Homo sapiens: one gene and its partners. The protein of the gene in region 2 interacts with the protein of the main gene of each other region in a biochemical or structural test. Each region holds a gene or a part of one and is shown on either strand. Other genes may lie near its edges. The genes, in order: PTPRD, NEK2, KIF24 and PPP1R2.

Region 1 (8,408 bases), on a different chromosome or scaffold from region 2:
TCGCTTCTTCATTCAGGCTCAGGGGGAGTTGAGACGCCGCAGGGTCCGTGTTGTTATATTAGTAGTTAACAAGCTGGTTTGGTAATAGTGACCGTAGCTGAAACATGTTAGTAAATAGAAAAGTTAAAAATTTAAAATGTGTTGTTTAACTCCAAAAGACAACTCTTGAGTATAATCTGTCCTGAGGCTTGGAGTTTGTAAGTATATTTGCATTTTTACATCTTGGTTTCTATTTTTACTGTATTGATTGAACTGTGCTTTGCATTTGTTTGAGGTTTTCTTCTTTTTCTTTCTCTTTTTTTCTGTTGTTTCTCTTCTGTTTCCTTATTAAACCCCTGAAATAATTGCTTGGTGTGCTACTAATCAGTTCTCTGTGCAATTCCAAGCATAAAGGTGTTTATGTCTTCATGACCCCTGCTGCTGAAACTGTAAGGATAAAGCTGCTAACTCTATAAAACAAGTGCTACATGCAAATAGCACAGTTGCATTTCTGTCTTCGTATACTTTCTTAATTATAAACACATAGTATTATATATACATGTGTATTCATATATGTGCACATATGTACACCTTTTTGTTTGAATTATTAAGACTTACCGAAACATTTAGTTTTTTGATTGCAATGGAAAACTGTATTTTAAATAGTAATGTGAGTTGTCCTTGAGACAAGAATGAATTATGAGGATACATTCATATGTTCTCATGAAGTAATAGAAATGATTAAACTGTGAGCTTATGAATGGCTATGCCTTTCCATTCAACTAGAAAGAAGTACTTCCTCTTCCCGAGAGTTCTCAAAGCCAGTTCCTGTAGTTTTTTTTATCCAGTGGAAGTGTTCTTATTCCTGGTCTACATATCTGTGAATAACCACAAAGGCATGGGTGGGGGTGGGATTAAAGAAAAGACTGAGAGGGCTTTAAGTTACAATAGGATGGGTTCCCTTAAGAAAATACCTAGCTTGATTTTGAAATTTTTGTTAGAGGTAATTTTGTTTCCCTGGGGATGTTTTTCTCTCCTTTCTTTTTTTATGGAGTCTGGGGTGGGGAAATATGAAGAAAGTCATTTCTTCTCTAAATTCTTCGAAAGTCCCTTGATCCTTTTTCCACAATAGTGACCTCCCTTGCTGCATGAGGCATGTGTACCTTCTTCCATGGAAAATTTCAAAATGATGCTAGCTATTGTTTCTAATACCATGTTAGTCTGTGAGATATTGCTAACTTTTCCAGCTGAGATAGGAAGGATGAACTAGAGCGAATAAAGATGTTCAAGTAGCAGTTGAAAGCCTTGATATGGCCTTTTTACTCTCTCTGTGTTTCCCTTGTTTTTCTCCTTTCCTCATTTCATTGTGTTCTGCATCAAACCCCCTACATCCCTCAGAGCTGCGAGAAGGTTGGTGTGTTTTTTACTTTTTACCCACCTTACAAAACTATTAATTAAACCAATAACAAAGAATACAAATGAAATGAATGTAGCTGCATTGTGTTCTTCTTTTGGTTAATGGTATGTTTTAGCAGAGAATGCCCTGGCCATGGCTTCTGGTGCTTGCTGGTGGTATCTAACTGTGGTGCATGGTGGGAGAGAATGTACCTGGGTGCATGGTAACTGGTAACACTTAACTCTGTAAGGTCCAGTGAACTTGGTCAGTGTTCCTGCTTTCCTTCCTGCTCCACTGTCCCCATCTCCCACCCTGCCTTTAATTTCTGTCTTATAAGGATGCCTGCTGCCCATAGAATGACTTTTTCTAGTTTCTCCCCTAATCCCAAGCATGAAGACTAAACTCTCCTCCATTTTTCTTGATATGTTCTTTGATACCTCAGAGTCTACACTGGCTCCTGCTTGCTTTGTGTAACCTCTGTGAATTGGCTGCAGGAGGCATGCTTAGCTTTCTCTTCTTCTCCTATGACTGTCATTCACCCATGAGGCCATTGCAGTGAGCCATCTCAAATAAGCGGAGGTTTATCTCGACCTTAAGAGCAGCCAAAAAGTTTTCAGACAGAATTACTTATCTTCTTCTTGGGGTTATGAGGTTACTTATCAGTTTATTTATAATTTTTAAAAAATCTTTATTAAATGTATTTAAGGTGTGCTCCCTAAAGATTACCCTCTAGATCTCAAATTCTTATGGTATGACATTTTGCCAGTAAAAGCCCCAGATGAAACCAATTTATCTTTCACTTTCTCCTTGTATCACATCCAAAACACATTTACTTAAACACACATAAACCTGCAGATTATCTGAAGCAGGAACACTGAACTGAAATTGCTTGGTAATTTTTCTGTGTTATGTTGCTTTAATATGATCTCTTCTCTTAATGTCATGTCCTGCTGTATGTTTTAGATCCAGTGTCCCTCAATTTGAATGTGGGCATAAAAAGCCTTTTAAAAGATTTTGTTGTCATTTATGTTGTTTTACCTTTGATATGAATTGAATGGAATCCTGTATGTGAAACACCCAGCTCCCTTTCTGAATTTGCAATCCTTACCTTTAACAACTTGAGCTTAATCTTCTGTCTTTCAACCCTGTCATCCCCTAAGTCCCTGTGTTTCAATCGTTATACTTTACCTCCCCCTTTCACGTTTATTTCTATTGCCCCCTTATTTCTTCTGCGGTCATTGCTGTCTTGGATTCCAGCCATTCTTTCAATATCCTTAGCACGGGCCTTGAGATTCCATCTTGTGCATGCCTTGCATGACCCAATCCAGTATCTCTACTGGTGTTAGCCTGTTTCTTCTTCTGTGACTGTAAATCAATATGTATATACATTTCTGTGTTTGTTCCAGTGTTAGTGTGAGGTCTTGAGGCTGCATCCACTATGAATCTGAAAACATAAAGTGCACTTTCAGTGTACTCTAGGTGATGTTTTCCAGGGCTGGGATGTGACAGTGTGGTCCCACACCTACATTCACATCAACTGGAAGTGCACAGCACTGAAGTTGGTTTTGATACTCAACTTAAACATGCTGGTGACCTTCCAGCCCCCTTTTCTGCATATACATGCCTGCATAGAATCATTGTTATATGCCTGCATGTATATGTTTTTGTGTTTATCTTATGCATGATGTTTGTGTATTGTTAGTTTGTAGATAGTTTTTTGTGGGGCCCTTGTAGGTCTGAATCAACTTTTGTATTAGTGTGTCTAAGATATCAATGACTAAACTAAATAAATAATTCTGTGTATACACACACCATACTTGTATGGTCTGTATTATCCACAGTTTTTCTTTATGTTTTGTTTTTGGACAATCCACAATGTTTCAATTGTTGAATCGTGTCTGTACGGTGCATGTCATGTGTTTAATAATCCACTTTTTCTTGCCTTGTATATGTTATCATTTCCCTTGTGTTTTGTTCCAGTTCGCCGTGTCCCACCAAGATTCTCTATCCCACCCACTAATCATGAAATCATGCCAGGCGGAAGCGTTAATATCACCTGTGTGGCCGTGGGGTCACCAATGCCTTATGTAAAGTGGATGTTGGGGGCAGAAGATCTGACACCTGAAGATGATATGCCAATAGGAAGAAATGTGCTAGAACTGAATGATGTAAGACAGTCAGCAAATTACACCTGTGTTGCTATGTCAACACTGGGTGTCATTGAAGCAATAGCACAGATCACTGTCAAAGGTATGCTCAATGGATTATGCTTTGAGGATCTGGGTACACTCAAGCCAAGTGACTAATGCCTCTAGAAAGCCCATCCTTGAAAATCTAAAATAATTCATTATTCAGCATTTTAAATGTGTGTATAACCTAATCATATCTGTGGTATTATATAACATGCATAAGCCTAGATAGGCGGATTTTTTCTTGGAAGTATCTGGCAGCCTATGTAGAGATAATCATCAGAATATTAAAAGACAGTCCATGGAGGCCCAGGCACTAACCAGACAGAACTAGGAATTTTACACATGGTCGACCATTATGGTGGGACTGATGTGTACAGTCTACATACTAGACCAGAACCTTGATAAGAACCCCAAGAAAAGTCAATATGAGCATTAATAAATGCTTAAAATTTCTAAATACAAAGGAAAAAGAAGAAAAAAAAAGTTGAAATCAACATAGTCTAGTAATAGATGATTTAACTTTTTGGTGAGCCCTACTATTAAAAATCAAAAGGCAAGTAAGAGTATATTCTGTTGTAGTTTTATCTTTCACCTTGCATAGATGAGTGCTCAAGGAATATTCTTTCCTTTAAAAAACAGACTAAATATAACCAAAGTACTATATTACATGAATATTTTTGAACTAAAGAGAAAGAGTACAAGCATGTAAGGGTACCGTTTTTTTTTCCCCTAGTGTTTATAGAATTCTAGAAAGTGTTTGCAAATTGAGTCAGACATAGGGCAACTTAAGTTTTCTGCAGATGGCTAGAACTATTGCAAAATGAACACAAATTATCTTCTTTTCCTAGGCAATGTTGTAGGCATTTGGAATTCAGCAGCAAGTAAGAAGTACAAGTTTGCTACTCTTGAAAAGCTGCCATTCTAGGGGGTGATCTTAGAAAATGCAATACACGTTATAATTGGTATCGCATCTCTAACCAAGCGTATATATCAAATATATGCTATATAAAACTAATGACATGAGAACAAAGGTACACATTGTCAACATTTACAATCGTGAAATAATGTTATATTGTGTAACCTTAATATAATAAGCACACATGTATTTATCCGTACATTACAGACATAAAACCTGTACTGTACAATAAATGTGACTTAGTGAAACTAATAATGTCAGCTAAATATCAGTGAGCACAGCTTTAATTAGCAATATTTGTATTTGCTTTGAAAGTTCAGAAAGACATGTAGGGGAAATCTGGAGCACACACAGCCTTGAAAAATGCCAGGTCAGAATATTTAAACAAATTTCATTTTATTATTATTTTCAGTAAATTCCCTTGACAAAATACTATCATTCTGTAGTTCTTTGAGTAGTGTGTAAATATTGAATCACCTTTTTTATAATTACCATTTCAGCTTTAAATATTTGAAGGCTTGCTGAAGACCTTTAAGAATTCAAAAGCAGGGGCCACTTTAAACTAATATTTTGTTCACCTTCTCATCTTTGTTTTCCTGACTCTTGCCACTTCCCTGTCTTTTCCACCTCAAAAATAAACAAATAAAACATAAGAGTGAATCTTAATGGCAAATTAAAATAAATCAAAACAAAAGAACAGGTTGAAGAGAATGAGGTGAATGGGTGCTGACTCATTTATTCAGTTAACTGTTTAACGATTCTCATTAAAAACCTACCGAGTGCCAGGCAGCATTCTAGGCATTCACAATTTTACAGTAAGTCAGAAGTACAAGTTTGCTGCTCTTGAAAAGCTGCCATTCTAGGGGGTGTTATACTTCTTGCCTTTATGTTGGCAAGGAAACAGGGACACTAATGGGCTGATTATATGAATGTTACCCTTTGAGATTTCTCTAAAGAGTCAACTATTAGAATGCCCCTTCCTACCCTAATAGCACTGCGTTTCAGAATCATTGTTTAGAATAAGGCACTTGAATATGAGGTCAGCAAAGCAGACAGTTTATATTTTTAATTAGTAGTATTTTGATTTGTATTCTTCTGCTAAAAAGAAAGAATTAGACCTCTAAAAAGATGGATTTTATTGCAAATATTTGTCATGTAGCTACATTGGATATTTCTGATGTGGAATATAGAATGCATATTAATATGACCATAACATACCTTAAAAAGTGATTGGTGAATGTGCCTTAATTTACTTCCTTCAGCAATTTTTAAATATTAAGAATAAAGCATTGATTTGAAATTTCTATTCTTTTGCACCTTAAAATTTTTGGTTTTTCATTTACAAGAAAATTTTTAGTAATGGTATTGTGTCTTACCAGAATATAGATGTTATTGTTTCATCGCAATTTAATTTCATTTCAATGTATTCCACATTTTGTTCTTTTCAATGTTTATCGGTATTTCAGTTATACCATTTATTTATTGGGGCAAGGGGCTAATTGGCCAAGCTTTTGGTATAATAATAGTAATAACTGCAGCTAATACTAAGGTTTTTTTGTGGGTTCCAGTTACATTCTAAGAATCTTAGTGGATTGGCTCATTAGTCTTCACAGCAAACCCATGAAATACAGTTACATACAGCTGTATAATATGACTTAAATAATAATATTTTTCCCATTTCCACATGAGGAAACTAAAGCAAAGAGAGGTTAAGAAATGCGTGCAGGATCACTTAGCTAATAAGTAGAGGATTTGGATACAAGCCTAAAAATATGCTATCAAGCCCTTCTAGGAAAGCAGGATTTGTGTCACCTATGAATGTTTTCCTGTCCTTCTTGGCCATTCAGAAAACTACTCTTTGCTATAATTTCATTTAATTAAATCTTCAGTAGATACATAATCCTGTCATTTTCATAGTAGAGTTTATAGATTTTTGAAATATTATAGGGATGATGGGTAGTCATTGTCTTTTATCTTCCCCCATCCAAGCCTTACCCAAACCTCCAGGAACTCCTGTAGTGACCGAGAGCACAGCTACAAGCATCACACTGACGTGGGACTCTGGGAACCCTGAGCCTGTTTCTTATTACATAATTCAGCATAAACCTAAAAACTCTGAGGAACTTTACAAAGAAATTGATGGGGTGGCGACCACACGCTACAGTGTCGCTGGACTAAGTCCCTACTCGGATTATGAATTCAGGGTTGTTGCTGTCAATAACATTGGGCGGGGGCCTCCCAGCGAACCTGTGCTAACACAAACCTCAGAGCAAGCACCATCCAGTGCCCCGAGGGATGTCCAGGCACGAATGTTGAGTTCGACCACCATTTTGGTACAGTGGAAGGAACCTGAAGAGCCAAATGGACAGATCCAAGGATATAGAGTTTATTATACAATGGATCCCACTCAACATGTCAACAACTGGATGAAACACAATGTAGCTGACAGCCAAATCACTACTATTGGCAACTTAGTGCCCCAGAAAACATATTCTGTCAAAGTCCTGGCTTTTACCTCAATTGGAGATGGTCCCCTTTCAAGTGACATACAAGTCATCACTCAGACAGGAGGTAAGTTTGGTTGAGGAGGGAAATAGGGCAGGAGGGAAGGGCTGGTGCAAAGAGGTGAGAAGGACAAAAACAAAGAAGGAACAAAGATGGTATGAATTTTAATTTTTGAGATTTAGGGCTTCAAAGCAACAGATGATAGATATCTGAAAAGGAACAAGCATGGACATCTGAAAAACTAATCATTTTGAGCAGAACAATGCATTAACACCCCTTCTTTTTAATTTGTATGGGAATGACTTGAAGACTTCTCTATGTGAGATAGAACAATGTCTCCCCCATGCCCAGTTTTGAGAATAGAAAAACGACACTTCTTTGTAATAGCTAGTATGGTAGAGTGGTCTCAAAAGAGTATTTAATTTGTGTAAGATTGGATGGTTCAAGACAAAGCTAAAAAATAAAACTGTTACAGGGCCTTGGGTATTTAAATGGCTTATATTTGCCAGAAGCTACTGGCTTGAAAATAAGTATTCTCTGAGTGGCTTTAATTTCTGTTTTTCTCTGTATGGCCTCAGTGGATAAAGAGAGACAGTTACCGAGATCTCAGATAGAACATTGGGCCTGATTGATTAACTTTGCTAAGAGCTACAGCAGACATTAGACTATTTTATGAAGGAAAACTTGGCCCTCCCAGTGGTTTTATTTTTCTAAGAGGTTATCAAACCTCTTTGGTCTTTGAGTCAAGGTGATCAGTTTGGCTTTGGGCTAATATAAAATAACAGGCCTCTTCTAAAGTTTATTCTTGAGCCACGCACAGTGGCTCACGCCTGTAATCCCAACACTTTTGGGAGGTAGGTGGATCACTTGAGGGTCAGGACTTTGAGACCAGCCTGGCCAATGGCAAAACCTCATCTCTATTAAAAATACAAAAATTAGCTGGGCATGGTAGCAGGCACCTGTAATTCCTGCTACTCAGGAGGCTGAGGCAGGAGAATCACTTGAACCTGGGAGATGGAGTTTGCAAGTTTGCAGTGAGCTAAGATTGTACCACTACACTCCAGCCTGGGTGACAGCAAGACTCCATCTCAAAAAAAAAAAAAAAAAAAAAAAAAGTTTATTCTTGAGCATCTGAGAGCTACTTCTTTGACTCCTTATTGTGTTGGCATCTTTTAAACCTGCATTAATCTACGAATGTTTTGGCATCATGCTGTTGGCTTGTTTTGAAATCTACATAATAATCATATTATTGGAGACAGTATAATCTGTAGACATAACTCATTGCTAATCCTGGCAATGAATTAATAAATTTTCTCAGATGCCAGTACTAGATAATGTACCTATCATCTATTTCACTGATACCTGTGAATCACTGACTTGTTTTCATGGCATGGTCTTTATATGAAGTATGTTTAACTAT
Region 2 (4,758 bases):
TTTATAACTCCCTTATTCCATGTAGGACAGCATATATGAAAGCTATTATTCCCATCTTTAATAAATTGAGATGTAGTGTGATCAATTTAGTGAGCATTGGCAGCATTTTGTAAATGGAACAGACAAAAAACCCTACTTAAGTTAGATTGATGATCACAATAACTTTGTAGTGAATAAGTGATGGAAAGAAATGAAACTACTGATAGAAGTAAATGAAACAAGGATTATATGAAACTTTGGCTTCATCTCTGTTAAAATACCTTCTTTTTTCCCAATATTGCAGTCTACCATTTCAATATTATAAAAATATTTATTCTGGCTTTTCATAGATTCCACACTGTCATCCATAAAGACAAAATAGACTTAAATCATGATTAGGGTGATAAAATGAGGAGAAAATTTTACCTGGATGAATTTCATGCATCAAACCCATTGCAGAGAATTACTTAAGACCCTGTTGGGGATGGCTGTTCGGTTAAAGAGTTTATTTACATTTGCCCTGATAGTCTTTGAGCAAAAGATGAAAATAGCTAAGTAAGGATGATGTGTTTTACTTTATAGGATACACAGATAAGTATGGGAATCTACTTATATGTGAATCATGGCAAATATTTAAAATGAGCCATAGGAATCAAGTATCCACTGGGGCAAGCAGACATTTTAGGGTATTGAGTGCTGAAAGTAGTGAACACATCAGAGCTATAAGATAAGCATCATAGCAGTGGGGAGCGGGTACCATTCTGAACTCAGGACAGTTGGAAATATTCTCTCCCCATCCTTGGGCTATAAAATCCACACGTGAGGAAGCCATCACAAGTATATTGAAATCATCACAGCAAGCAGCAGTGTCTTTTTTAAAAGCTGTTCTTTTCGTATTTGATGAAATATTCATTCTTCTATTTAATGGAAGAATTTTAAAAATGTTTTTAAAACACTTTCTTTCTTATAAAACTGTCCCATTAAGAGCCAAGTGTGGTGACGCACCTATAGTCCCAGCTACTCTGGGGCTCAGGCAGGAAGATCACTTAAGCCGAGGCGTCCAAGGCTGTAGTGCACTACAGCTGCACCTGTGACTAGCCACTGCACTCCAGCCTGGAAAACATGGCAAGACCCCATCTCAGACAAAAACAAAAACAAAATAAAACTATCCCATTAGTAAGACAATGTTGACTTACAAATGTAAAGGTATTTGTGGTAATAAGAAGGTGGATAGAGTTGAAACAGTGGAGATAAGGTCTAAAAGCAATCCAGTTTGCTTTGAAGCAGAAGCGACGTATGAAGCGGGAAGTCACAGGACCCTTGGAAGGCAGTGCATCTGTGTGCCAGCCTTTCCTATTTCTTCTGCCTGGAGCACTCTTCATCCAGACAGCCCTGTGGCTTCTTACTTCAGAAATGCTGTATGAGGCTTTGTATCATTACACCCAGCACCCAGCACCCAGCATGTCCCTGTTTCCAGAGCTATTTTTCCTAATAGCACGTATTACCATCAAATATTCCCCACCAGTACTTGTTTGTTTGTGTTTGGTTTATCTCCTCCTACTAGAATAGGGCCTTTGTTTGGTTCACAGTGGCCCATCCTATGAGCTCAGTAAATATTCGAACATATTTCCTTTAACACAAAAAATAAAAGGATTCTAGAATCTGTAAGCCTCCAGCCCCCAGTAATTCTGTCAGCAGTTAATAGTGTTGCCACTTTAAGTAAATATGATTATTATTTATTTTTTCCATGTAAAGAATAGTTTACAGTTTTTACTACTCTTACTTGATTTACCTTTTCCACACTGAATTTGTTTAGATTTTTTGGAAACAGATTTCTCGTCCATTAAGATGCTTTGAACTAAGTGTTCTTGAACATTTAACCAAAACTGTAGGTGTTCTCTATTTAAAAAAAAAAAAAAAAACAAAGACAGAAAAAAACCTCTGCTTCTACACTTTTCTGTAGGTAAGGTGTTCTGCATAGAATGGCACTTATTTTCAAGGACAGAGATAAATAACATTGATTTCCAAAAGTTTTATGTTGTCCATAATACTCAGTGTGTTTAAGAGTAAAATTGATTGTTGGTTGTTAAGAGAATAAAACTTATGTTCCTTGAATTTTGGCACATTCCAATATTATTTTTTCAATGCTGTGGATTAAAAGGCTGATTTCTGCAAGTCCTACACCCCTAACCTCCTATCCCAGAGAAAATAAAACAGGCACCTAGATTTCAAATGTGAGCCATAAGAGCAAATACTTTTTGATAAGTATAAGTATGAAGGAGTTGAACTCTGTTCAAGTAACTCAGAGCCCTTTTTCTTTTTCCTTCTAAAGAACTTCTTAATCTTCCATCCTCAGTAATTAAGAAGAAAGTTCATTTCAGTGGGGAAAGTAAAGAGAACATCATGAGGAGTGAGAATTCTGAGAGTCAGCTCACATCTAAGTCCAAGTGCAAGGACCTGAAGAAAAGGCTTCACGCTGCCCAGCTGCGGGCTCAAGCCCTGTCAGATATTGAGAAAAATTACCAACTGAAAAGCAGACAGATCCTGGGCATGCGCTAGCCAGGTAGAGAGACACAGAGCTGTGTACAGGATGTAATATTACCAACCTTTAAAGACTGATATTCAAATGCTGTAGTGTTGAATACTTGGTTCCATGAGCCATGCCTTTCTGTATAGTACACATGATATTTCGGAATTGGTTTTACTGTTCTTCAGCAACTATTGTACAAAATGTTCACATTTAATTTTTCTTTCTTCTTTTAAGAACATATTATAAAAAGAATACTTTCTTGGTTGGGCTTTTAATCCTGTGTGTGATTACTAGTAGGAACATGAGATGTGACATTCTAAATCTTGGGAGAAAAAATAATGTTAGGAAAAAAATATTTATGCAGGAAGAGTAGCACTCACTGAATAGTTTTAAATGACTGAGTGGTATGCTTACAATTGTCATGTCTAGATTTAAATTTTAAGTCTGAGATTTTAAATGTTTTTGAGCTTAGAAAACCCAGTTAGATGCAATTTGGTCATTAATACCATGACATCTTGCTTATAAATATTCCATTGCTCTGTAGTTCAAATCTGTTAGCTTTGTGAAAATTCATCACTGTGATGTTTGTATTCTTTTTTTTTTTCTGTTTAACAGAATATGAGCTGTCTGTCATTTACCTACTTCTTTCCCACTAAATAAAAGAATTCTTCAGTTTCCCTGTAGTTATGTGTCTTGCATTTGTTGGTCTCTTAGTTGATGGGAGTTGTGTTTATGATTTGTAGGTCTTCATTGTAGGGTACAGAAGGAAACATGGATCTGATGCTCAAGGGAGTGGCATTCCAGTCCTAAACTGTATGGCGCTTTACCTCCCATCTCATTAATCCATGTATGTAAGCCAGTGGTCCTTAACAGGGTGATTTTGCTCCTCAAGAGACGTTTGGCAATGTCTGGGGGCATTTTTGATTGTCATGATTTGGGGTAGGGTGCTACTGGCTGCTAGTGGGTACAGGCCAGGGACACTGTAAACATTTTACAATGCACAGGACAGCTGCTGACAACAAAATGTCCATGGGTTTGGATCATAATCCTGAATGATACAATCTCAAATGCGAAAATCCTGAAAGACCAAAATCCCTAATGTCTTAAATCCCAAAAGATCAGAATCCCTAATGTGTGAACTTCCAAAATCACAATCCTGAAAGATTAAAATCCCAGATGTTAAAATCCTGAAAGCCGAATTTGAGGTTAGGGATTAGTGCCGTTTCAGCTGTATACAGGATAATTGCATCATGTTAGGCAGAACTATTACCTTGTTATTGTCTTCATTTGGAAATTAAGTATGGTTTAAGAGATGTGGATGGATATCGAGTTGATAAGGGGTGAACTTGTTGATTTATGTGTCAACTTGACTGGATTAAGGAATCCCTAGAAATCTGGTAAAGCATTATTTTAGATGTGTCTGTGAGGGTGTTTCCAGAGGAGGTTAATATGTGAGTCTCAGTAGACTAGGTGGGGAATATCTTTCCTCAATGTTTAGTGTTTTGAAGATCATAAAAGCGACTTTTCAGGTGAAAAGTACAAGAAATCTCTCCTGCCAAATTATTCAGTTATGTACAAATTCTGCTCCTTCATGAATAGTGCCACGCTTGCCTTAAAAAAATGCCCTTTGTCAGAGAATAAAATTCGACAAGCTGAACGACCTTGTGAACCAAAGACACTTGCTGATACTGAGGTTCCTCCAGTGTTACAAAACTCATTAACCAAACTGTTCTTGGTTAGGGATTTGACTGTCGAAGAAGATAGACTGCTTATATTTACCACTAAATCTAACAGAAAAACTATCGCATGTTTTCATTTTGGCTAGTGGACGGCACTTTCAAAACTATCCCTACTGGTTTTTATCAACTATACATGATTCATGCCCCTGTTGGTTCTGAAGATTCTAGAACTTATCTAGTCATTTAAACAATTATTTGAAGATTTGCTGCACTTTGCAGAAGAAAATAGCTTTCGATTGAATCCCCAAACCATAACAACAGATTTGGAATTAGGTGTGATCAAAGCTTCTAAAAGTGAATTTCAAAGTGTTACCAATAAAGTTTGTTTTTTTTCCATTCAGCCCAATGCATTTGATAGAAAATTAGATGAGTAGATAGGCCAGGAGATACAGCAATGACAAAAACTTCAGTTTAGAAGCAGGAACCCGCATCCAGGAATAGAGCCCTTTGCTCCTCCCTCAGAATGAATGGAGATCAAAAATCAGATGCTTATGCCCAAGAAAAACAGGA
Region 3 (8,408 bases), on a different chromosome or scaffold from region 2:
ATGAAATGAGGGAAGAAATAGACTTCACTTCTTCATGGAAGGACCTGCAAAAAATTTTTGGTCTTTAAAAAACAAATCTGCCTTCACAAAACAAATCTACCAGCCAGTGTGGTGGCTCACGCCTGTAATCCCAGCACTTTGCGAGGCTGAGGTGGGTGGATCACCTGAGGTCAGGAGTTCGAGACCAGCCTGGCCAACATGGCGAAACTCCTTCTCTACTAAAAATACAAAAATTAGCCGGGTGTGGTGGCACGCACCTGTGAATCCTAGCTACTCAGGAGGCTGAGACAGGAGAATTGCTTGAACCTGGAGGCGGAAGTTGCAGTGAGCCAAGATACCACCACTGCACTCCAGCCTGGGCAACAGAGTGAAACTCCATCTCAAAAAAAACAAATCTACCACAAATAGAAGGCCAGGATTAGTTTAGGATGTGTTACTCAGCCCATTTAGCCTTTTAGCCTAAGTAGTATTTCCCCCAAAGCTAATTATTCAACGTTCTTTGGTTATCTTTATTACCTTGCCCTCACCTCTTTCTCTGTTTCTGCTAGAAAGAAGATGAAATAGAAATTAAAACGAAAACAGGAAAGTTGTACCACTAGTTACCTAACTGAATTTTTGAAAACTCTGAATTATGAAACCATTTTAAAAAAGAAAATGTACTGTATTTACTTTTGGATATTCTCATGAACTTGATTAACAGTGATATAGAGAGCTCAGGATCCTGACTTTTAATAATAGACCAGGATTATGTGTTATTACCACATTATTTGTTAGTATTTAATTAAATATCTTGATATTAAAATTTTTTAAAAGATACAACTATTTAAAATCTTGACCTTAGTATTAATTTCCTGGGCAAATTATTTGATTCATATTCTGTACAGGTAGAGATCGATGACCACCTTTTGGAATGATCTGAAATCCTGAATTGGCTGATGCTGAATTGATGATGTCTTTACTTCTATTTAACTAACTTTTGCCAGTACTCAGCAAATGCAAATGCTATCTTCCTTTGAGTTACATTAGTTTATAATCCTCTGTGGTATGCCATTTAATTCTGCTTTTCATTCTGAAAGAGTTCTTAGCCCCTGTTCATTATTCATGGGAAACAGTTGTGCAGCATGCCTTGACATTAAGTTGAGCATCTAAAATTAGTCCTGCTACAATCAGTTGTTGGGAACAAGGTTTCAATAGTTGTGGCATGTGTTAAGTAGACATTGCAAGGTTGGAAGGAACTCCCTAGAAATAAGTAAGTTATGTGTTATGTATGTGTTCATTTGTGTATCTATGTGTATATATATATGTGTGTGTATATATATGTGTATATATATGTATATATACACATATATACGTATATATGTATATATATACGTGTATATACATATATACGTATATATGTACATATATACGTATATATATACATATACACGTATATATGTATATACACGTATATATACACATATGTAAAATGGAATGTCTCTTTTTATTAAGCAAATTAACAAATTATATGTTACCACAAATTCTTCATATGCAATACAAAGCATCTTTGTTCATGCACTATGCTATTTAATCAATAATTTCAGAAGAAAAATATGTTATTGAGAACTTGACAGATAAAACATTTTTTGCATGTTTGTTTTGTGGTTTTGTGGTTTTCAATTTTTAAAATAAATAATTGTATTACATGTACTCTATTTCAAGCGAATGGCTTTTCTTTCTCTCTTCAGAGTTTATAGAAACCTATTCACCAAAATGGCATCCTGGTTATATGAATGTCTTTGTGAAGCTGAACTTGCACAGTATTATTCTCATTTCACTGCCCTTGGCCTTCAGAAAATAGATGAATTAGCCAAGATTACAATGAAGGACTACTCCAAATTAGGAGTCCATGACATGAACGACCGCAAACGTCTCTTCCAACTTATCAAAATTATTAAGATTATGCAAGAAGAAGATAAAGCAGTCAGTATCCCAGAGCGTCATCTTCAGACAAGCAGCCTGCGCATCAAATCTCAGGAATTAAGATCTGGCCCTCGCAGACAGCTGAATTTTGATTCTCCTGCTGACAATAAAGACAGAAATGCCAGCAATGATGGGTTTGAAATGTGCAGTTTATCAGATTTCTCTGCAAATGAACAGAAGTCCACTTACCTAAAAGTGCTAGAACACATGCTACCAGATGATTCCCAGTACCATACAAAAACAGGAATTCTGAATGCCACAGCTGGTGATTCCTATGTGCAAACAGAAATCAGCACTTCACTCTTTTCACCAAATTACCTTTCTGCAATACTGGGGGATTGTGATATTCCCATTATTCAAAGAATCTCTCATGTTTCAGGGTATAACTATGGAATCCCTCATTCTTGTATCAGGTAATAAATTTTATCTTTCTTTCTTTTGAGGGAAAGTAGCCTCAGGCAAGGGCAGGCCTCTCCTTCATGTCCAGCAGACAGCATCTACTCCTTATTTATAGTAAATGAATATAACAGAAATTATCATGAACAGCATTTGCATCAATAATAGGAATACCTGGATGTGGGAAAATTAATGAGAAATTGGGACTTTCTAGGTGGGAGAAAGATGATATTGTTCATGTACATCAGAACAGCTGCTACTTGCCAGGATCTGTAGCAGATCTGTTTCTATTGTTTATTATAGCGTAACATGATACATCTAGTACATCTGTGAAAGTGAAATAGTTAACCCTTCTACAGTGGAGAAAAAAATTACACAATCCACAGGACTTTTTTAAGGTTATCAAATTCACTTAACCCAACCAGGAGACTTAAAGATGCTTTGTTAAAAAACAAGGGCATGTAGTTTAATTAAGTAGGTCTTTGGGGCAGTTAGTTCACCTACACACATTGAAATATGATCCTAATTTTGAGTGCTTTCTACAATTTCAACCCCGGAAAAAACAGATAATTTTGGTGATTACAAACAGTAAGACATTGTTGGTGGAGATGAGAGTTTGAGAGTCAGGGTGACAATAAGTTATTTTCACCTAGTGCTTCGAGTTAGAATTTGAAATAAGGTCCCTAAGAGGTGAAATAACAAGTAATCCCTAGTACTAACAATGGTATAATAGGAAATATGTTCTTTTAATCTTGTAAAAAAAAAAAAAAAGTACTCCTTGTTTTATTTTAAACATTATATATGTGAGTTATGGGCAAACAAAATTCATTCTTGAGCCATATTTTCTTTTTAAAAATACTGTTATTCATACCTTAAGATAAAGAATTTATATCTGGTCTTACATTGGCTAAGGTTTCAGAAGATCTCATAATCAGTTATTTTACTCCATAAAAATAGAAGACTCAGTTTTAACAGTAAAAATATCTTTAATAATTTGAAATACATAAGTGAATTTTTATTATAATATTTCTGAAAACATTTTGTTTGGTCTAGGAGATCACAGAGCATGTAATACTGTTTTCTTCTTTTAATTCTGAGAGGAATAGATTGTTCCTTGACTATGAAGGCAGATTGTTGCTATTGCATTGGTTACCTCAGCGGTGAAGGAGTAAATATTTTCTTTTTTTTTTTTTTTTTTTTGAGACGGAGTCTCGCACTGTCGCCCAGGCTGGAGTGCAGTGGTGCAATCTCTGCTCACTGCAAGCTCCGCCTCCCGGGTTCATGCCATTCTCCTGCCTCAGCCTTCCGAGTAGCTGGGACTACAGGCGCCCGCCACTATGCCTGGCTAATTTTTTGTATTTTTAGTAGAGGTGGGGTTTCACCATGTTAGCCAGGATGGTCTTGATCTCCTGACCTTGTGATCCACCCGCCTCAGCCTCCCAAAATGCTGGGATTACAGGCGTGAGCCACCACGCCTGGCCTATTTTCTTGAATATTACTTTTTTACTGAACAGTACATAAAAATCTAAATTGGAATTACTTATAAGTAAAAATACCACTTTATTTAACACCATCAAGGATAGGATGGATATTTTAGTTTAACCATTACCATTTCATTTATTTGACTCTTTTGTTTATTTGTTTGTTTGTTTGATTTGTAGAGACAGGGTCTTGCTCTGTCACCCAGGCTGGAGTGCAGTGGTGCAGTCATAGTCCACTGGGGCCTCAAACTCCTGAGGTCAAGTGATCCTCCTGCCTCAGCCACCCAAGTAGCTAGGACTACAGGTATGCACCACTGTCCCCAGCTAATTTTTCAATTTTTTGTAGAGTTGGGGATCTCACTATGTTACCCAGGCTGGTCTTGAACTCCTGGCCTCAAGTGATCCTCCCACCTCAGCTTCCCAAAGCACTGGGATTACAGGTGAGAGCCACTCTGCCCTGCCCAAACTAGAGCTTTTTAAAAAAACATGCATGTCTTTTTGCTCCTTGAACTTGAAACTATGGGCCTTTTGTTCATATGAGTCATCCTAGAGCCCTGAACAATTTTAAAAAGGACCAAACATTTTCTATCCTCTTTGATCAGCTTTATATGATTAGGTTATTGATATCCAACAACTAAAGATTTTAACACAAAACCCTTATTAAAATGATGCATTAGGCCAGGCACAGTGGCTCACACCTCTAATCCCAGCACTTTGGGAGGCCAAGGCGGGTGGATCACCTGAGGTCAGGAGTTCAAGGTCAGCCTGGCCAACATGGCTAAACCCCATCTCTACTAAAAATACAAAAATTAGCAGAGCGTCATGGCAGGTGCCTGCAGTCCCAGCTATTCTAGAGGCTGAGGTAGGAAAATCGCTTGAACCCAGGAGGCAGAGGTTGCAGTGAGCCAAGATTGTGCCACTGCACTCCAGCCTGGGTGACACAATGAAACTCTGTCTCAAAAAAAAAAAAAAGCATTAAAAATTTTCATTTTTGATGAGCACAGTGGCTCATGCCTGCAATCCTGGCATTTTGGGAGGCCAAGGCAGGCAGATTGCTTGAGCCCAGGAGTTCGAGGCCAGCCTGGGCAACATGGTGAGACCCTGTTTCTACAAAAATACAAAAATTAGCCAGACATGATGGTGTGCACCTGTAGTTCCAGCTACTATTGGCTGAAGTGGGAGGATGGCTTCAGCCCAGGAGGTTGAGGCTTCAGTGAGCTATGCTCGCACCACTGCACTCCAGTCTGGGTGATAGAGCAAGACCCTGTCTCAAAACAAAAAATTCCCTTTTCTTGTGAAAAATCAAACATATGCAAAAGAAGAAAAAAATAGAACACTGAATCCCAATATGTCCATCATCCAATTTCTTTTTCTTTTTTCTTTTTTTTTTTTTTTTTTTCAGACAGAGTCTTGCTCTGTTGCCCAGGCTGGAATGCAATGGCACTATCTCACCTGTGAACTCCACCTCCTGGGTTTAAGTGAGCATGCCCAGCTAAGTTTTATATTTTTAGTAGAGATGGGGTTTCACCATGTTGGCCAGGCTGGTCTCGAACTCCTGACCTCAAGTGATCTGCCCGCCTCAGCCTCTCGAAGTGCTAGGATTACAGGCGTGAGCCACCGCACCTGGCCCGTCATCCAGTTTCAATGATTGTCACGATTTTCCCACAGTACCTCAAAATGGTACATTTCATTTATTCTGTCATTTATTTATTCCATCTGCAGTTTCATGCAAAAATGATGCATTTTAAAGTCCCTAAATGTTGGTTAAGAAAATAAAATTTGCTTTAAAACATGCCATAAAATTAGTGCTTTATGCATTCATTATATTAGAAAATTATTTGCTGGTTTTTTTTTTTTTAAACCAATTCAGATCCCAGTAAAAAAATTATTCTCCAGGCTGAGCGTGATGACTGATGCTTGTAATCCCAGCACTTTGACAGGCCAAAATGGGAGGATTGCTTGAGGCCATAAGTTGAAGACCAGCCTGGGCAAGATAGTGGGACCCTGTCCCTACAAAAATTACAAAAATTAGCCAGCTGCGGTGTTGTATGCTATAGTCCTAGCTACTTAGGAGGCTGAGGTAGAATTTCTTGAACCCTGGAGGTTGAGGCTGCAATGAGCCATGGCTGTGCCACTGTACTCCAGTCTGGGTGACAGAGTGAGATCCTATCTCAAAAAAAATTTTTTTTCAGCAGCCAGTTGGAGGGCTAAGGAAATCAGAATTGATATGAAACAATTGTATAAAATAGTATTCTATATATGATCTCTTAGGGGTTTTTTGTTTGTTGGTTGGTTTTTTGTTGTTGTTCTGTTATTTGTGTTTTTGCAAGGAAAAGGGCGGAGCAGGGTGGGGATGGAGATAGAAGAACTTTCTCAGGGTTGACACTTTACTTTGTAACTTTAAGAAATATATTATGCCTAATATACAGCAAAATGTACCAATACTTTTTTTTTTTTTGAGACAGAATCTGGCTCTGTCGCCCAGGCTGGAGTGCAGTGGCGCAATCTCGGCTCACTGCAAGCTCTGCCTCCCGGGTTCACGCCATTCTCCTGCCTCAGCCTCCCAAGTAGCTGGGATTACAGGCGCACGCCACTATGCCTGGCTAATTTTTTGTATTTTTAGTAGAGATGGGGTTTCACCGTGTTAGCCAGGATGGTCTTGATCTCCTGACATCGTGATCCGCCCACCTCGGCCTCTCAAAGTGCTGGGATTACAGGCGTAAGCCACCGCGCCCGGCTAAAAGGTACCAATACTTTGACCTGTTAAGTAATCTTGTCCTATTATTAAAAATTAAAAGCCTGTTTATAAACATATTAGACAGAACACTTCAGAGAAACAGAATCCTTGGACTGAGATGGAGAAAATCAGAGTTTGTGTTCGAAAACGCCCCCTGGGCATGAGGGAGGTACGTCGTGGAGAAATTAATATTATTACTGTAGAAGACAAAGAAACTCTACTTGTGCATGAGAAGAAAGAAGCAGTTGACCTCACTCAATATATTCTGCAGGTATGATGTTTTCGTTTTATGTTTGGAACTAATATTATCAAGTATGTCATTTTTTTTTGCTTTTTGTTTGAGTGGTGGCATACAAGTTTCTGTTAGAACACTGAAAATCAAGTTTCTGGTTCGGGTGTTGACATTCATTCCTGATGTGACACTGTATTAAGTCATTGATATCCAGGGCCTTCATTTTTTCAAAAGACGGTGCAATAGGGGATACAAAAACAATTTCTCTTGTGCAGTGGAGCTACATCATATATTCACTTAACATGCTTTGTGTGAATTTAATTATACATATTCAGCAAAAAAAAGGAGGAATGAAGGAATAAAAATAATTTAAATAATGAAGTGGGGCCAGGTGTGGTGGCTCACGCCTATAATCCCAGTGCTTTGGGAGGCTGCAGTGGGAGGATCACTTGAGCCCAAGAGTTTGAGACCACCCTGGGCACCATAGCGAGATCCTGTCTCTCCAGAAAAGATCTTAAAACTAGCCCAGCATGGTGGTGTGTACCTGTAGTCTTAACTACTCAGGAGGCTGAGGCAGGAGGATCACTTGAGCCCAGGAGTTCTGCATTACAGTGAGCTATGATTGCACCACTGCACTCCAGCCTGGGCAACAGAGGGAGGATCTGCCTCTAAAAGAATATAAAAATAAAAAACAAATAAATAATTAAGTAGTTGTCAACAGGACCAGTCACTGAATATATGACTATGAGATGTCACACAGTTGATTTCCATTCTTGCTTGCATCTCACAGTGTGAACTTCTCATTCTGCTGACTTTGAGACTTGGGTTTAATGATGGACAATATCTTTTTGGGCAACAGGACCGACAATTGCCAGCCACGTGCTTATTTTGATTCTCAGCTGTCTTGGGCTTATACTTAATTGGCGAAAATTGGGCTCTGAGCAGACCACTTTATACAGGGTAGATTGCAGTGGGTAAATAAAATCCAGAGATATGATTTCACATCTAACATATAAGGGTTTAAATAAAACACTAATAACTCAGCCATGTAAATAATGTTCACTGCCTGCTAGAGTGATTATGAAGAGTCCAAGGAGAAAGAGTTTGGTATTGAAAGAAACTTATTCCAAGCTGAAGGTACCTTGCAATAATTCTTTAGTCTCATAGGGAAACAGCAAACTCCACAGATGGAAAGAATCATCATTTAGGTACTCCTAAAATTGTGAAAAATTGTGAGTAATCTAAAACCAGATAATCCATTGGATGTTAAGATTTGAGAGTACACAGTTTCTCTTACTCTGAATCTACTTCCCTAAACATTCATATTATATTTATTCTTTCTCTCTCTCTTGTTCTCTTGCCTCAAAACCCAGTGACTGGTAGGAAGAAAAAAAAATCTGGTATGCTAGCAATTCACCTTAGTCAGCTGAGATCTTACATTAGTGGAATAAATCCTTTAATGCTGAAGTGATTTGTTAACACTTTCACCCTTTTTCAAACTTGTATTGTTCTTCTTTTTCTTTGGTTACCAAAATTGTGTTTCACAGAGATATTCAGAGTAATCCACTGAGTCTTTCTACTGGTACTAAATTACTAGGCC
Region 4 (8,408 bases), on a different chromosome or scaffold from region 2:
AGCCACTGCAAAGTATATAAAGCAGAACTCAGCTATTTATAAAATACTGCCAGTTTATACATTTCCTGGTTAATTAAGGTGACAAGTAAGTCTATAGTTTAGATGACGTTCTTTTTTCTAAGGGAAGTTGAAATTGATCTATGTTATTGAGTTTAATCAAGCAAAGTAAGGTAAAATAAACATTTTGTTAATTTATAGAATCGTTCTATAGAAAATTCTAGTTGTAAAATTTACTGAATTATGTTTATATATGTACATGTATACAGAAGCAATAACTTCTTGTATACTAACTGTGAGATTCTTAGATAATAAGACATGATGTTTCTATAAAAAGCATCTTCACTTAAATAAAATTTTTTTTTTTTTTGAGACAGGGTCTCATTCTGTCACCCAGGAGTACAGTGGCACCATCACGGCTCACTACAGCCTCAATTTCCCGGGCTCAAGTGATACTCCCACCTAAGCCTCTTGTGTAGCTGGGACTACAGGCATGTGCTACCATTCCTGGCTTAATTCTTTTTATTTTTTGTAGAGACGGGGTCTCTCTATGTTGCCCAGGCTCATCTCCAATTCCTGAGCTCAAGCAATCCTCCCACCTCAGCCTCCTAAAGTGCTGGGATTACAAGGATGAGCTACCATGGCTGGCCAAATGAAACTCTCAAAAAGAAAAAAGAAAGTCATGGAAAGAAATGATAAAACTGAGCAGTGAACTGATAAAAGCAGGACACAGGTTATCTCTGCATGCACATAGCCTCAATTACTTAGGGACCAAATAACTTTTCTGGTTATTTGAATGGCAAATATCTACCATTCAAATTATATTTATAAACAGTCAAAAAATAATGGCCATAGCTATTCTGAAATTTTTTTTCTTTTTCTTTAGAGATAAGGTCTCCCTCTGTCATCCAGGCTGGAGTGCAATGACGTGATCATGGCTAATTGCAGCTACAACCTCCAGGGCTCAGACAGTCCTCCTGCCTCAGCCTCCTAGCTAGCTGGGACTACAAGTACACACCACCACCTCTGGATAATTTTACTTTTTTTATTTGAGACAGAGTTTCGCTCTGGTTGCCCAGGCTGGAGTGCAATGGCGCGATCTCAGCTCACTGCAACCTCTGCCTCCCAGGTTCAAGTGATTCTCCTGCCTCAGCCTCCCGAGTAGCTGGGGTTATAGGCGCCCACCACCACATCTGGGAATTTTTATGTATTTTCAGTAGAGACGGGGTTTCACCATGTTGGCTAGGCTGGTCTTGAACTCCTGACCTTAGGTGATCCACCCGCCTCAGGCTCCCAAAGTGCTGGGATTACAGGCGTGAGCTGCTGTGCTTAGTCTAATTTGTTTTAATTTTTTTTGTGGAGATAAGAGTCTCACTCTGTTGCCCAGGTTGGTCTTGAACTCCTGGGCAAGAGTTCTTTGGGGAAGGGCGTGGTGGCTCATGCCTGTAATCCCACACTTTGGGAGGCTGAGGTGGGTGGATCACTTGAGGTCAGGAGTTTGAGATCAGCTTGGCCAACACGGTGAAACCCTGTCAATACTAAAAATACAAAAACTAGCCAGGCGTGGTAGTGGGTGCCTGTAATCCCAGCTACTTGGGAGGCTGAGGCACGAGAATCTCTTGAACCTGAGACATGGAGCTTGCAGTGAGCTGAGATCGTGCCACTGCTCTCCAGCCCGGGTGACAGAGTGAGACTCTGTCTCAAAAAAATAAAAAATAAAAAATAAAAAACAGCATTCTTTGGGAGGCTAAGCGATCCTCCTGCTTCAGGCTCCCAAAGTGCTGAGATTACAGGCGTTGAGCCACTGCACCTGGCCTCAACTATTTTTTTAAATCATGTCTGATCTTAATTCTCCTAGGATACTTATCCCCAACTAACACAAGTGAGTGACGGATGGCCACTACATTTAGTAAAAAGAAAGTACACTCTGATTTTGGATTCTGGTACAATAAAGGTTTTAATATACATTTTAGAAGTTGGGCACGGTGATGTGTGCCCATAGTCAGCTACCTGGGAGGCGGAGGAGGGAGGATCACTTGAGTCGGGAGTTCCAGGCTGTAGTGTGCTATAACTGTGCCTGTTAATAGCCACTGCACTGGGCAACATAGCCAGATCTTGTATCTTTTTTTTTTTTTAAGATTTTTAAAGTATATACCTGCAATTTAGGAGAAAAATAAGAATATAAACCTCTTTTTAGCATGCGTATTTTTTTTTAACTAATTGTAATTTTATTGTTTTTCTTCCCCTCAATTTATTTTTACTTCAATAGGTTTTTGGGAAACAAGTGGTGTTTGGTTACACAGGTAAGTTCTTCAGTGGTAATTGCTGAGATTTTGGTGCACCCATCACCCGAGCAGTGTACACGGCACCCAATGTGTAGTCTTTTATCCCTCAACCCCCTCTCACCCCTCCCATCCCCAAAGTCCACTGTATCATTCTTATGCCTTTGCTTAGCTCCCGCTTATAAGTGAGAACATACAAGGTCTGGTTTTCCATTCCTGGGTTACTTCACTTAGAGTAATGGTCTCCAACTCCATCCAGGTTGCTGTGAATGCCATTATTTTGTTCCTTTTTATATATATTCCATGGTACATACATATATACCACAAAAAACTGTGTATTTCTTCACTCAAATTTCATCAGTATTGAGTTTCAGCATCTGTACCTATTTCATTATTTCTTTTTATGCTCATCAGTCTTTAATATCTTCAAGTTTTTTATTTTTACTGTTTTTGTTAGTAACAGGTTATTTCAAATTATCTTCCAAAGTTTTCACCCACTGACTTAAAATACAGTAGTTCTTAACTCTTCTTTCACTACAGAACAAATGGAAACAGCAGTTACCTCTATTTTAATGGTAACTTTTGGATTTATGCTGTCTTAATTCAATGACAAAATATTTTAATCTTGGAAATCTTTTATTTTTTTCAATACAAGGTAGGTAGGGCATAACTATTTTTTTTTTTTTTTTTTTTTTTTTTTTTTGTAGAAAGAGTCTTACTATGTTGCTTAGGCTGGTTTTGATCTCCTGGCCTGAAGCAATACTCCCACCTCTGCCTCTGTAATCTCAAAGTGCTGGGAGTACAGGCAAGAGTCACCATGCCCAGCCAAGGTATTATCTTTTTTTTTTTTTTTTGAGACAGAGTTTTGCTCTTGTCGCCCAGGCTGGAGTGCAATGGTGTGATCTTGGCTTACAGCAACCTCCGTCTCCCGGGTTCAAGCAATTCTCCTGCCTCAGCCTCCCGAGTAGCTGGGATTACAGGTGCCCGCCACCATGCCTGGCTAATTTTTGTATTTTTTTTTTTTTTTAGTAGAGATGGGGTTTCACCACGTTGGCCGGGCTGGTCTTTCACCTCAGGTGATCCGCCCACTTTGGCCTCCCAAGGTGCTGGGATTACAGGCGTGAGCCACAGTGCTCGGCCCAAGGTATTATCTTAATTAGGTATCTATACCTATTTAGAATCCTCATCTTCTCATAATGCTTCTTGCATTATTTTTGTCTTCATACTGGTTACTGCTGCGTAATGTAATTTCACAATTCATTTAGGAAATTCTGAGACTTGAAATTGTCAAAAATTACATGTAATGATCTGAACAACAATATTACATTAAGTTAAAAAATGAAGACATAAACAGTAATAATGACACCTATCTTTCAGTGGGTTACCATCCATGCAGTTATGCTTCTCTGCAAAGAGACTGAGTAAACCCCAGATTTCTACTTGGGAAGCAAACAAGCCCATATCTCATCTTCCTTTCATGGAAGTTAAAACTAATATATGCACCATTAGTAGCTAGCAACCACTGAGGTGCAACAAATAAACATTTACTACTACCATTATAATGTACAAAATGGCTTTCTTAATTTTAAACTTACACATCACTTAAACCATTACTAAACAAATTGCAGTTAGGTTACTGACTTCACTAGTGCTCCAGTAACAAATCTACAATAAAACAAATTCAAATAGGCTGTTATCCAGACGTTCATATGAAATGCAAAATGGAAGTAAGTCACAAGAGGAATGACGTCTACGTAACATTACCTATGGTAAGGAGTGCTTGGTTCATCTATTTTCATTAAACCATAGTCTTTGTCTGCTGGATGATACGTCGCCAAGATGTTCATTTCATCCCACTTCTGGGATTTTTTGCTAAAATTAAAAAGAAAAAACGTTTTTCCCAATGCAGAAAAAGATAAACCTGAATATCAAAATTCACAAATGTCCAAATTTAACATTTCAACTTCTATTTGATGGCCAACCTCTATTTTCACATATACTTTCTTGGAATAGAAGCTGACTCAGGGTAAAAACCATTAAGTAACTACAATAAAATGTCAGTAAATATAGAACACCTAGTGCCCACATATTAAAAACACAATATTTAGTATCTATATCAGGCATTCAAAACATTACCATACTATGACATGCTTAGCCTTCATTTGGCCTATAAAATAATGCAAGTCAAAATCTATACATTCGCTGAAGTCAGTAGGCATTTTTGATCTATATATCAGTAACTGTTCGGTAAAAAACACAACAGGAGTACTTCCTTGGCATAATTTCTTTCTGGGATATCTGTTAACACTCAGAACATAAAGATTCAAACAATAAAACTATAGAGAAAACCTCATCAAACTCAGACACCACTAAATCATTAGATTGCAAATAAATTACAGCTCTGTTTATTTCTAATCTAGAAAAATAAAGGTTTGCTCAGAAATGGTGTATTCAAACCTACTTGAAGAGCAATAGACGTTCTCTCTAAGTACTTTATTATTTTTGTTTTGTTTTGAGACGGAGTCTCACTCTGTTGCCCAGGCTGGAGTACAGTGGCGCCATCTCGGCTCACTGCAACTTCCACCTTCCCTGTTCATGCGCTTCCCCTGTCTCAGCCTCCCGAGTAGCTGGGATGACAGGCGCGCACCACCACGCCCAGCTAATTTTTGTATTTTTAGGAGAGACAGGGTTTCACCATGTTGGCCAGGCTGGTCTTGAACTCCTGATCTCGTGATCTGCCTGCCTTGGCCTCCCAAAGTGCTGGGATTACAGGTGTGAGCCACCAGGCCGGGCCATTATTTTTGTTTTTTGAGACAGAGTTTTGCTCTTGTCGCCCAGGCTGGAGTGCAATGGCACGATCTCGGCTCACTGCAACCTCTGCCTCCTGGGTTCAAGCGATTCTCCTGCCTCAGCCTCCTGAGTAGCTGGGATTAAAGGTGTCTGCCACCACACCTGGCTAATTTTTGTATTTTTGGTAGAGACGGGGTTTCACCATGTTGGCCAGGCTGGTCTTGAACTCCTGACCTTACGTGATCTGCCTGCCTGGGCCTCCCAAACTGCTGGGATTCCAGGAGTGAGCCACCGTGCCTGGCCTATAAGTACTTTAGAAACATCTGTTAAATTTCATGCAATGAAGTATTTGCACAACTATTAAGGTGCTCGATAATTAAATGCTTTCATTTTAAATGCTTACATACTCCTTAAAAAAGACCTCAAAGACCTTTCTACAAGCCAACATTATTTTGTTACATATAGTTTGTTACTTAGTATGTACTTGGAAAAACCTGCCTTAAAAAGAATCAATGTAAATGTTACACTGATTTAAATAATGCTTTCCACATTTGGTCTAAATTGTTAAGGTTTTACTGCAGGTATTTTCAATTTCCCAGATCCTGAAATACCCTTTAAGAATAACATACTCAACATTTTAATAACATATTCCCTTTTCCATACTCTCAAAATGGTTTGATGAGTTACCTTAAAAATTATACAGGCCTACTCTTGCAGGTGACTTCGTATTCTTTTGCTTTCTACCCTAATATACCCACAGTGTCCCCATTTCGGACTAAGCACTTTTTTTCTTCATTTTTTAAAATTGTGGTAAAACATACATAAAATTCACCATTTTAACCTTTTTGTTTTTTGGTTAATCTTCCCTGTATCATTCCAATTTTAGTGCACGTGCTCCTGAAGTAAGCACTAGCCATTACGAAGTGTACAATTCTATGGCATTAAGAACATCACATCATTGTGCAAGCATCACCACCATTCATCTCCAGAACTTTTTCATCTTCCCCAACTGAAACTGTACTCATTAAGTACTAACTCCCCACTCTCCCCAGCCCCTAGACCTGGCAACCACCATTCTACTTCTATCTCTAGAAATGTGACCACTCTAGGTACCTCGCAGAAGCGAAATCATGAAGTATTTGTCCTTTTGTGACTGGCGTATCTCACTAAGCATAATGTCTTCAAGGTTCATTCATATTGTAGCATGTGTCAGAATGTCTCTCTTTTTTTAAGAGACTGGGTCTCTGTCACCCCAGGCTAGAGTAAAGTGGCATGATCATAGTTCACTGCAGTCTCGAACTCCTGGACTCAAGTGATCCTCCTGCCTCAGCCTCCTGACTAGGTGGGACCACAGGTACGCACCACCATGCCCAGCTAATTTTTCTTTTTCTTTTTCTTTTTTTTTTTTTTTTTTTACAGGTGGAGTCTTGCTATGTTGTCAGGCTGGTATCAAACTCCTGGCCTCAAGCAATTCCCCTGCCTCAGCCTCCCAAAGTACTGGAATTACAGGTATGAGCCACCACACCTGGCCATAATCAAATTAATATGTCCTTAGTATTTGAAAAAAGTCACCTGCCAGGAGTGGGACTGTGTAATTTTTAAGGGAACTCATCACACTCTTCTGGGACTGAACTAGACTGGGTAAACAGAGCTTGCTTTAACAATACCGATGTCTTCAGATGCCTAGGCTTCTGCCTGTCACATAGTTGAGCTTGTGGCAGAAAACAAAAAACAAATTTAACCGGGAGACAGACACTGAAGGTTCAAGTTTCAGTTACCCTTTACTATAGAGAAGCCAAAAAAAAATCTTCTCTTGGACTCTATTTATAGTTGACCCTTGAATATTATGAGTTTGAACTGTGTGGGTCCACTTATATGCGGATTTTTTTTCAACAAATCTACTGGAAATTTTTTTGGAGGCTTGTGACAATTTGAAGAAACTCAGATAAACCACATAGCCCAGAAATATTTAAAAAAACCTTAAAAGTTAGTTATGTCATAAGTGCATTATACATAGAGAATAGTCTACTTTATCATTTACTACCATAAAATATTCACAAGCCTAGTTAAAATGTAACGTTAAAATTTATCAAAACATGCACATACAACACATGGTGTTGGATCTGCAGTTGGATCATAACTGCATAAAATTAACTACAGTACATACTATTCTATGTCACAGTTTCACAGCTATCTCTTGTTGCTACTGCAGTCTCCTCAAGTGTTGCAAGTTTGCTTAAAATGCTCTATGATGCGGCCAGGCACGTCTGTAATCCCAGCACTTTGGGAGGCTGAGGCAGGTGGATCACTTGAGGTTAGGCGCTCGAGACCAGCCTAGCCAACATGGTGAAACCCCGTCTCTACCAAAAATACAAAAAAATTAGGCATGGTGGCTTGCGCTTGTAGTCCTAGCTACTCAGGAGGCTGATGCAGAAGAATCACTTGAACCCGGGAGGCAGGGGTTGCAGTGAGCAGAGATCATGCCACTGCACTCCAGCCTGGGCAACAGAGTAAGACTCTGCCTCAGGAAAAAAAAAAAAAAAAGCTCTATGATGCTAGTTGTTTCAGTGTGAGTAGTTTGTTGCTCCAGTAAATTGCCTGTTGCAATAAAAAGTGATCTGTCTTGGTTTTTGAGTATTTTTTATCCTATTTAGTGCAATATTGTAAACCTTGAGTAACACCATGGGAGTCATACAAAATGCCACTAGAGATGCTGGAAGCATTCCCAAGAAGCAAAGTTGTGACATTACAAGAAAAAGTAGAACGCTTGATGAGTACCTTAGATGGAGCTCTGCAACTGCGGCTGCCCATCATTTAAACATGAATCCACCATAAAGACCATTGTAAAAATAAAATCAAATAAAAGGAAATTCACAAAGCTGTCACTGCAGTAGCGATACCAGCATGAAAACCTTGCATATTTTGTGAAGTGCCTTTTGTATTGCCGATGCATCTTTTATGTGAGTGCAGGATTGTACAAGACTATAGACTCTAATATGATTTGAGAAAAAATGATGTCACTATATGATAACTTAAAGCAAAAAGAAGGTGAAGAATCTAAAGTTGGAGAATTTAATGCGAGCAAACAATGGTTTGATAATTTTAGAAAGAGGTTTGGCTTTAAAATTACAAGATAACAGAGAAGCAGCTTCTGCCAACCAACAGGCTGCAGACGAGTTCCCAGAGGCCATTAAGAAAATCACTAATGAGAAAGGGCCAGGTGCAATGGCTCACACCTGTAATCCCACACTTTGGGAGGCTGAGGCAGGAGGATCTCTTGAGCCCAGGAGTTTGAGAACAGCTTGGGCAACCATAGTGAGACACTATCTCTACAAAAAA

The links.
Region 1: the proteins of NEK2 (region 2) and PTPRD form a complex in vitro, tested with the Homo sapiens proteins (one study listed by BioGRID and IntAct).
Region 3: of the proteins of NEK2 (region 2) and KIF24, one has a biochemical effect on the other in vitro, tested with the Homo sapiens proteins (one study listed by IntAct).
Region 4: the proteins of NEK2 (region 2) and PPP1R2 form a complex in vitro, tested with the Homo sapiens proteins (one study listed by BioGRID).

Annotation. Positions count from the first base shown.
Region 1 is NC_000009.12:8,516,494-8,524,901, reverse strand, and holds part of PTPRD (receptor-type tyrosine-protein phosphatase delta isoform 1 precursor), read left to right. Parts: intron 1-1,377; coding exon 1,378-1,389; intron 1,390-3,355; coding exon 3,356-3,625; intron 3,626-6,472; coding exon 6,473-7,054; intron 7,055-8,408.
Region 2 is NC_000001.11:211,661,206-211,665,963, reverse strand, and holds the end of NEK2 (serine/threonine-protein kinase Nek2), read left to right. Parts: intron 1-2,311; coding exon 2,312-2,538; 3' UTR 2,539-3,192; downstream 3,193-4,758. UniProt on the Homo sapiens protein: Protein kinase which is involved in the control of centrosome separation and bipolar spindle formation in mitotic cells and chromatin condensation in meiotic cells.
Region 3 is NC_000009.12:34,304,691-34,313,098, reverse strand, and holds part of KIF24 (kinesin-like protein KIF24), read left to right. Parts: intron 1-1,192; exon of another isoform or gene 1,193-1,249; intron 1,250-1,727; coding exon of another isoform or gene 1,728-1,752; coding exon 1,753-2,375; intron 2,376-6,657; coding exon 6,658-6,847; intron 6,848-8,408. UniProt on the Homo sapiens protein: Microtubule-dependent motor protein that acts as a negative regulator of ciliogenesis by mediating recruitment of CCP110 to mother centriole in cycling cells, leading to restrict nucleation of cilia at centrioles.
Region 4 is NC_000003.12:195,525,751-195,534,158, forward strand, and holds part of PPP1R2 (protein phosphatase inhibitor 2), read right to left. Parts: intron 4,152-8,408; coding exon 4,044-4,151; intron 2,153-4,043; coding exon of another isoform or gene 2,008-2,152; intron 1-2,007. UniProt on the Homo sapiens protein: Inhibitor of protein-phosphatase 1.